Linked DNA regions of Homo sapiens. The protein of the gene in region 1 interacts with the protein of each later gene in a biochemical or structural test. Each region holds a gene or a part of one and is shown in the gene's direction. Other genes may lie near its edges.

What was found.
Region 2: the proteins of FHL5 (region 1) and CREM form a complex in vitro, tested with the Homo sapiens proteins (one study listed by BioGRID).

What each region holds. Positions count from the first base shown.
Region 1 is NC_000006.12:96,615,110-96,619,433, forward strand, and holds the end of FHL5 (four and a half LIM domains protein 5), read left to right. Parts: intron 1-499; coding exon 500-663; 3' UTR 664-3,517; downstream 3,518-4,324. UniProt on the Homo sapiens protein: May be involved in the regulation of spermatogenesis. Stimulates CREM transcriptional activity in a phosphorylation-independent manner.
Region 2 is NC_000010.11:35,189,233-35,193,057, forward strand, and holds part of CREM (cAMP-responsive element modulator), read left to right. Parts: intron 1-3,825.

The sequences.
Region 1 (4,324 bases):
GGAAAGAAGAAAACTAAAACTCATTACAACATTGGACATCAAACTAGGAAGCATACATTTATTTCCTTTTATCTTCATTTTGCAGCTAAGAAAACTTAAAGTCATATAGAGAAAAAGGGGAAATGTATTCATACTTAGATATCTCTGACTTCACAACCTATACCTTCTTTCCACTATGCTACACTGTATTGTCTTATCTGGCTTAGACAACCTTATCTGTTTCCAAAAATACCTGACTTGCATATTAGCATTCTGCCTTCTTCTGTTGATTATGGCAGAATTTGGCTGTGAATCTGGTTGGGTGGCATAGGTGTAACTTTCCTACAGTGGATAGTTCCAGATGGACACAGGGCCAGGAAGCAGCATTCTTTTTTGGGTTATTTGCCTCTGCGTTGTTTTGCTCATAGCTCTATCTCCAGTTCCTAGAGGAGCATCTGCTAGAATGCTCAATCTGTTCCTTGAAAGGATAGATTAATCTTTTTCTCCAATTCCTTTACAGGTCTCACAGGTGCCAAGTTTATCTGCTTTCAAGACAGCCAGTGGCATAGCGAATGCTTTAACTGCGGGAAATGCTCTGTCTCCTTGGTGGGTAAAGGCTTCCTGACCCAGAACAAGGAAATCTTCTGCCAAAAATGTGGCTCCGGAATGGACACTGACATCTAGGAGACAGTCCTTGCCCACCTAAAATCCATTTTGCCTTCGTTGTCACTAAAGCCAGAACTCAGTTGCGGTCTTATTTTTGACTTAAGTTTTAGAAAATATTCATGTAGTTTAGAGTGGAAAAGTTTTTGCACACATTTTGATCGAACTATATTCTAAGCACACAAAAAGCACAGTAGAACAGAAATGAATATATGCTAAATCACAAAGACAACTCTCCTTGCAAAATACTGCACTCTGCTGTTAGAAGCAGAGGAAAATATCTCTTCATAATCAAATATATGACATATACCTAGGAGCTGTGGATGTAATTACTGAAGAATGAGGTTTTTCATACCTGAAGAGTAAAAGAAAAACTAAGAGATCAAACTGAGAGGTATACATGAGGCTAGTGTTTGCATTCCTGGTTATATGTAATGTGATAAATTAGCTATGAATGGTAAAAGAACAAAACTGATCAGAGTAAATTCATTAGCAATTATCACATTTAAGAATTGTTATCATTTAAAAATCATCCTTTTTTTCACACATACTGACTGTAGAATTAAAAAACAAAGCTACAATTTGCCCTCATACACACTGCTTCCACAGCTTGCTAGTTCTGTGTTTACTCAATGGAATATGAGAACTGAGGACATTATGGCTCTCATAATCTGCATAGGTATAAAGAGGATCATTTCTACCTAGGGATAGCCAAAGCATGGGTTTCAACACGTTTTGTATTAAATATATTTTCAAAGTCCACAGTGATTTTTCTAAACGCTTACAGATTCCATGAAATAAAAGTCTATTCTTTCAAGTGGAGCTAACCAGGATAATCTTTGTCCCCAAAGGCAAACCTTTAAAATAAATAGATCATTAAATCTTCACTTGTGGAAATGAGTTTTAGGGAAGGGATTGAGTCTTGGAACATGACTTTCATCCAGATATCTAACGACATAATAGAATGCATAATTAGCTCTGTGCCTCATGCATTATTGCCTTCTAAAATTACATAAATGATTAATGGGCAGACATAAAAGTGGGCTTTAAAGAAATCTAGTAATAATAAAAGCTGAAAAAGAATAATTCACTGCTGATAATTCAGAACCTGCAAAGCAGCACAATAGAGTAATGTGGGCTGTAGGCGAGCCCTCCCCACTCTTCCCCCACACCTGTGCCACACCCCCCTTACCCCAAGCCAGTTGTGCCCCCAGTTTCAATCTCCTGCATAACCAGGAGGTGCACTCCTAACCCTAAGCAACTGTCCTATAAGTCAGTCAGTGTTTATTGATCACACAGGAAGTAAAGAGCCTTAGTGAGAAGTCCATCACCAGGTTTATCTTTATACCAGACTTTAACTGATCATGACCCTATCTTGCTACCCCTGGATATTTTCCACATTACTTGGGACAAATGGAAAGCAACCTCTGCTCTCCATGATCTGTTTTCACATTGGTTATAGCATCTCTTGGATGGAGTAGAGGGAGGTCAGGAGAAGAAGCCCACATAGATATATAACTGTCTTCTCTCAGATTACACATTATAGCATTAAAGGTTTTGATTAAAATCTAATTGTAAGATACTGCTGATTACAATTACCAAAATAGCATCACAGGAGATTCAATTAAAATTGTTATGGAAATAATTTTTGAAATAGTTTAAAATGCAAGAATATTCAGCGATGTTAATAATTTAGAGATACTAATAAGTGTTCTGCTAGATAGACTATTTGAAAACTATAAATGTATTTTTGGATTAACAATGCCAAGGTATTTTTTCATATTCACATTGAAAAATACAGGCAAAACTATCAATATTTTTTCTGCATTATATGAAATTTCACAGGTAGAACTAAATCTATGATATAGAAAATAATAGCACATTACACATAGAGAAAACCAAGCCACTTAGGTTTAGATAGATATATAACATGTAACATCTTCTCTGTTAACCAATTATAGATACATATACAACATGTAATGTTTTCTTAGTTAAACAATTGGAAATGTTTAGGCATTTTACTGTGTGGGGGCAGTGAGTATGCACATGATCAGACTTGTATTCTAGCTTTACAATTAAAATTCACAGAATCATTTCCTAAAGATTTTATTATCCTTTCATAAGTATAAATATATATACTTTTACATATAAATAGTTCTGCATTTAGAAGGTATCCTACACATCAAACATCCATTAAACATGTACTATGCCAAAAGTTAGAGCTTATACTGTTGTGGGTCTGGAGTTGTAGGAGGATGGATCATGGTATGGAAATGCAGAAGTGCCTGATGCAAAGATCCTTGCCTGCAGGTTAAACAAAGCACCACATATGTAGACATAGCACACATATGCAAAACAACTAAGAAAAAGACCTCCTTAGGTCTTTGCGTAACACACACAAAGATAAATGTAAAAATTATATAGTTGATTTATATGGTTTATGTAACAAAGAGAAAAACTCCTTAATGGACTTATCCAAAGATGAAATGGACTGACTCAGGAAACAGTGGGCTCCCAGTAATTCAAAGGTGACATCTGCATGGGCAGGAAAGAAGTTAAAAGCAAATCCCATGTGCCAATAACAACCAGATGGCTTGGAAGTAGCAGAGACTGCCGAAGAGCAGGAGAAAATAAGATTGCTAAAAGAGAAAGAGTCAGAGGAAGGGAGAATATTAACTCTTAGGATAAAAAGTGACATAACCGGCCATAGAAAGTTACCAACTGTTCATAAGTAAAGGAAGAAAATAATTATTGTAGTGTTTGAGGAAAATTATGCTTTTGATCCTTTGTGGAATAGAACCAAAGAAAGCAAGGTTCCAAGGATTAAGTTTCTTACTGAAGGAATAAGTTTGGTTAATGGCTACAAAAGTGAAAAGAAAGAGGAAGAAGGCATTGAAGGCCACGAGTTACATTTGTTGGCAAAGATGAGTATGCAAGTCAACAAGTCAAAATATTTTATTTTGTCATGTTGGGGATTAAAGATGACAAAAGAAGCAAAAATGTATTTCTGCTTCAATAATAATGACTAGGAAGCCCAAGGGTTCAATTTTAACTTGGCATTATAAAAGTGTTAAATTGGGACAAACTAGCTCCACTGGTTAAGTAAAATGTGGTTATGTTACAATCCAGGCTTCAAAGCTTACATCGTTGCTATAACTTAAAAAAAAGAAACACTAGATTGTTCATTAGAGTAAAATATTGGCCTACCATTATGAAAAATGCATAACACTAATCACAAATGGTTAAAAAAAACTGCCAAATTTAATATCACAAATGAAAAGTCAATCCAAAAACACATTTCATGTTAGCAATACCATTTTTGAATTTAAGAAAAAAATAACTTTTAATCTACTTGGCATATTGTTAATTGTCTGTGTTTTAAATAAGAAAATGGTTGTTTAGCCGGGCACGGTGGCTCACGCCTGTAATCCCAGCACTTTGGGAGGCCAAGGCGGGCGGATCACGAGGTCAGGAGATCTAGACCAGCCTGGCTAACACGGTGAAACCCCGTCTCTACTAAAAATACAAAAAATTAGCCGGGCACGGTGGCGGGCGCCTGTAGTCCCAGATACTCGGGAGGCTGAGGCAGGAGAATGGCGTGAACCCGGGACGCGGAGCTTGCAGTGAGCCGAGATGGCGCCACTGCACTCCAGCCTGGGCGACAGAGCAAGACTCTCTCTCA
Region 2 (3,825 bases), on another chromosome or scaffold:
AAGTATCCATTCTAGCTCTTATGGAAGCTGTCAGTAATGAAATAAAAGTTGAGATGTAGCCCTAAGCTTTTAGGGTTACCTGAGATTTCAACTGGATTTGCGTTATACATTATTTTAATTCAGTTGTGCCTATGATAACTGTAATAGATGTATTTAATACAGCTTTCAAAACTCCTGTGTTTTAATTGAATTCTATTCCTCTTGGTCCATTCGCTTAGGATTTAGGATATAGCACTATTTTTTAAAAATTTGCTTGCTTGTTTGTTTGTTTGTTTATTTATTTATTTATTTATTTATTTTTGAGACAGAGTCTCGCTCTGTTGCCCAGGCTGGAGTGCAGTGGCGCGATCTCGGCTCACTGCGACCTCCGCCTCCCAGGTTCAAGCAATTCTTCTGCCTCAGCCTCCCGAGTAGCTGGGACTACAGGTGCATAACGCCATGCCCGGCTAATTTATTGTATTTTAGTAGAGACGGGGTTTCACCGTATTGCCCAGGCTGGTCGTGAACTCCTGAGCTCAGGCAGTCCACCCACCTTGGCCTCCCAAAGTGCTGGGATTACAGGCAGCACTAACGTTAAGGAAAGTAAAATCAGTTATTTTAGTTCGAATGTCTTGCAGGTATGATAAGCATATTATAATTGATGAGTCTCTTGATAATTATACTCAGGTATTTTGGGGGTTAATGTGGACTATGGTAAAAGTGTGTGAAGAACTGAGGTGGTGGCATTTATGGAGTAAAAAATGCATAGTACAAACCCAGTACTTTAATGTTTTCTTGAAATGTAAAATGAAAGCCACCTGTTCTATTCCCCCCATACTCATGGACCATATTTATGTCTAGGTGAATAATCTTAAAGAATAATTATTTCTTCTCATTTTATCTTTGTTACATGGAAGAATCTACTGCAAACAACAGAGTTTTGAGAATTTTTAATGTTTTACACAATATGCACGTAAGTTTGTGCCTTGGGGTTTTTAAGAATTTTCTTCCACAAGTCACAAAGATTTTTTTCCACATTTTCTTCTATTTGCTTTATGGTTTTACCTTTCACATTTATGTCTTTAATGTATCTGGGCTTCACTTCTGTATATAGTATTTGGTGGGAATTCATTTTTAACTTTTTTCTCCGTATATGGAGCCACTCCCAAGGGTTTGTTGTTTCCTCACTGGTGTATGGGGCAGCCTTAATTAGACAGTGGGTTTGCTTTTGCACCTGGATCTGGCCAGTCTTCTGTCTGATTCATCTTTTTCTGAATCCCAGCGCCATACATGTTTGTTATCTCATAAAACAAGTTCCCCTTGTCTTTTTTCTCAGTTTGATACAGAGTTAGTTTTTTGTGCACGATTATTCTTTCATATGCATTTGGAATAAGTTTGAGTTTCTAAATAGTAGTAGTAATAATAATAATAATAAAACCAATGATGAGACTGCATTAATTTTTTTTTTCTTGAGATGGAGTCTCGCTCTGTTGCCCTGCCTGGAGTGCAGTGGCACGATGGCTCACTGCAAGCTCCACCTCCCGGGTTCACGCCATTCTTCTGCCTCAGCCTCCCAAGTAGCTGGGACTACAGGCGCCTGCCACCATGTCCGACTAATTTTTTTGTATTTTTAGTAGATACAGGGTTTCACCATGTTCGCCAGGATGGTCTCGATCTCCTGACCTCATGATCCGCCCACCTCAGCCTCCCGAAGTGCTGGGATTACAGGCATGAGCCACCATGCCCAGCCAAGACTGCATTTAATTTAGGGAGAGCTGAAGTCTTCATAATGTTAAGTTGACCTATCCCAAACCATAGAAAGTCTTGTTTATTCAGATCTCATTTTACTTCTTTTAACAGTTGAACATTTTTCTTTTTATTTATTTATTTATTTATTATACTTTAAGTTTTAGGGAACAGTTGAACATTTTTCTTCACGGAGATCTTGCATATTCTTTCTTTAGTTGGTTCCTAAGTACTTTATGGGTTTTGTTGCCATTACAATGGTACCTTATTTTGTATTGTATTTTCTAATTGTTGCTGGTGTAGAGAAATACGGATTATTTTAAGTCGATCTTTTATCTATTAACTTTGCTGAACTCTAATTACTTCTAATAATTTACTGATTCTTTGTGATTCGGTCTGTGATCCTATGTGAATGTTTATACAAATAGTGATGTTTTGTTTCCTCCCTTCCAATCTTTATTCCTGTTTTCTTTTTCTCTTTTTTTCTTTTCCTTAAATAATCATGGCCAGGAGCTCCAGTTTAAACACAGCAAGGCCAGTGGGCATTCTTGTCTTCCTGAACTTAGTGGCAGTGTTCCCTGCCCTCCTTCTCCCTTCATCTCACTGAAGGGCCCTGTCAGCTTCTTTGTGGATTCTCAGTGCCTGTCTTGGCTGATGCCTCAGCAGTATTTAACACTGTCGACTTCTGCTTCCTCCACTTCCTGAGACTGTGTCCTCCTTGCTCTTCTCTCTCTGCTGCTTCTCTGTCAGTCCTGTTGCTGGGCTAAGCTTCCCCTGCCCCTGTCCTGAGTGTTTCAGTGATCCTCAGGCTCACTCCCCCACCCTCTTCCTGCTGAGCTCCCTCCCTGAAGGACTCCCTCCCACGCTGGCTTCAGTTCACTGTGACTATGTCCTGACTCCAGCTGGTTCCTTAGATGGCCACACATACCTCTGACTCCTAAAATCCACTCTTCCTATCTTCAGTGATTGACCACTACTATCCTTGATGCCAGAAACCTAGGTGTTGTCCAGTATTCTTCCCAGTCTCCATTCAAAGTCACTGTGTAGATTCTTCTGCCTGGCTGAGCCATGAATGCTTCTGCCACTCCACAGCCCTCTGTCCTGGCCCTGGCCCTGGCCTGGGTGCTATCCCTCTGACCCAGGCTACCCCTGTGGGCTACAGTCTCCGGCAGCCACCGGAAGCTGGCTATTGTGGAACAGCTTTCTGATCCTCCTAATCATGCCAGAGGCAGCAGCTCCCTTCTTGGCTCAGTTTTTTGGGAATTGTTCCTGAAAGTTCAGCTAAACTCTTCATTCCTCACAGTGATTCTGGGAGCCACTGATAGTTCTTAAAAACAGCAGTTTCTTGCCCCCAACATCTCCATTACTGCATTGCACTTGTTTTGTTTTGTTTCGTTTTGTTTTGTTTTGAGACAGAGTCTCACTCTCTTGGCCAGGCTGGAACACAGTGATGTGATCTTAGCTCACTGCAACCTCTGTCTCCTGGGCTCAAGCATTTCTCCTGCCTCAGCTTCCCGAGTAGCTGGGATTACAGGCATGTACCACCATGCCCAGCTAATTTTTGTATTTTTAGTAGAGACGGGGTTACACCATGTTGGCCAGGCTGGTCTTGAACTCCTGAGTTTAGGTAATCCGTCCATCTCGGCATCCTAAAGTGCTACGATTATAGGCATGAGCCACCACACCTGGTGTCTGGGGTCTTTTTAATAAGGGCACTAATCCTGTTCACAAGGGTGTCACCCTCATGACCTCATCACCTCTCAGAGGTTCCACCTCCAAATACTATTGCATTGGAGGTGAGGATTTCAACAGAGGAAATTGGGTGGGGATACAAACATTCAGTCTATAGCATCCACTCAAAAGCATCCATCAATGTCTGTGACCTGTTAGACAAAGCTCCAAATCTTTCATGTGGCCCAAATCTTTGCTTGATCCAAGCCTTGCATTCTTTAATAGCTGCCTACCTCTCCACTTCTCCCTCTTTTGTAATACAGCTCTTTCTTTCATTTCCTGGGATAGGCCATGCCCTCTCTCCCTCCAGGGCCTTCTTCACACATACCGATTGCCTGATAAGAATACGTTCCCCGAGGAAGCCTTGCC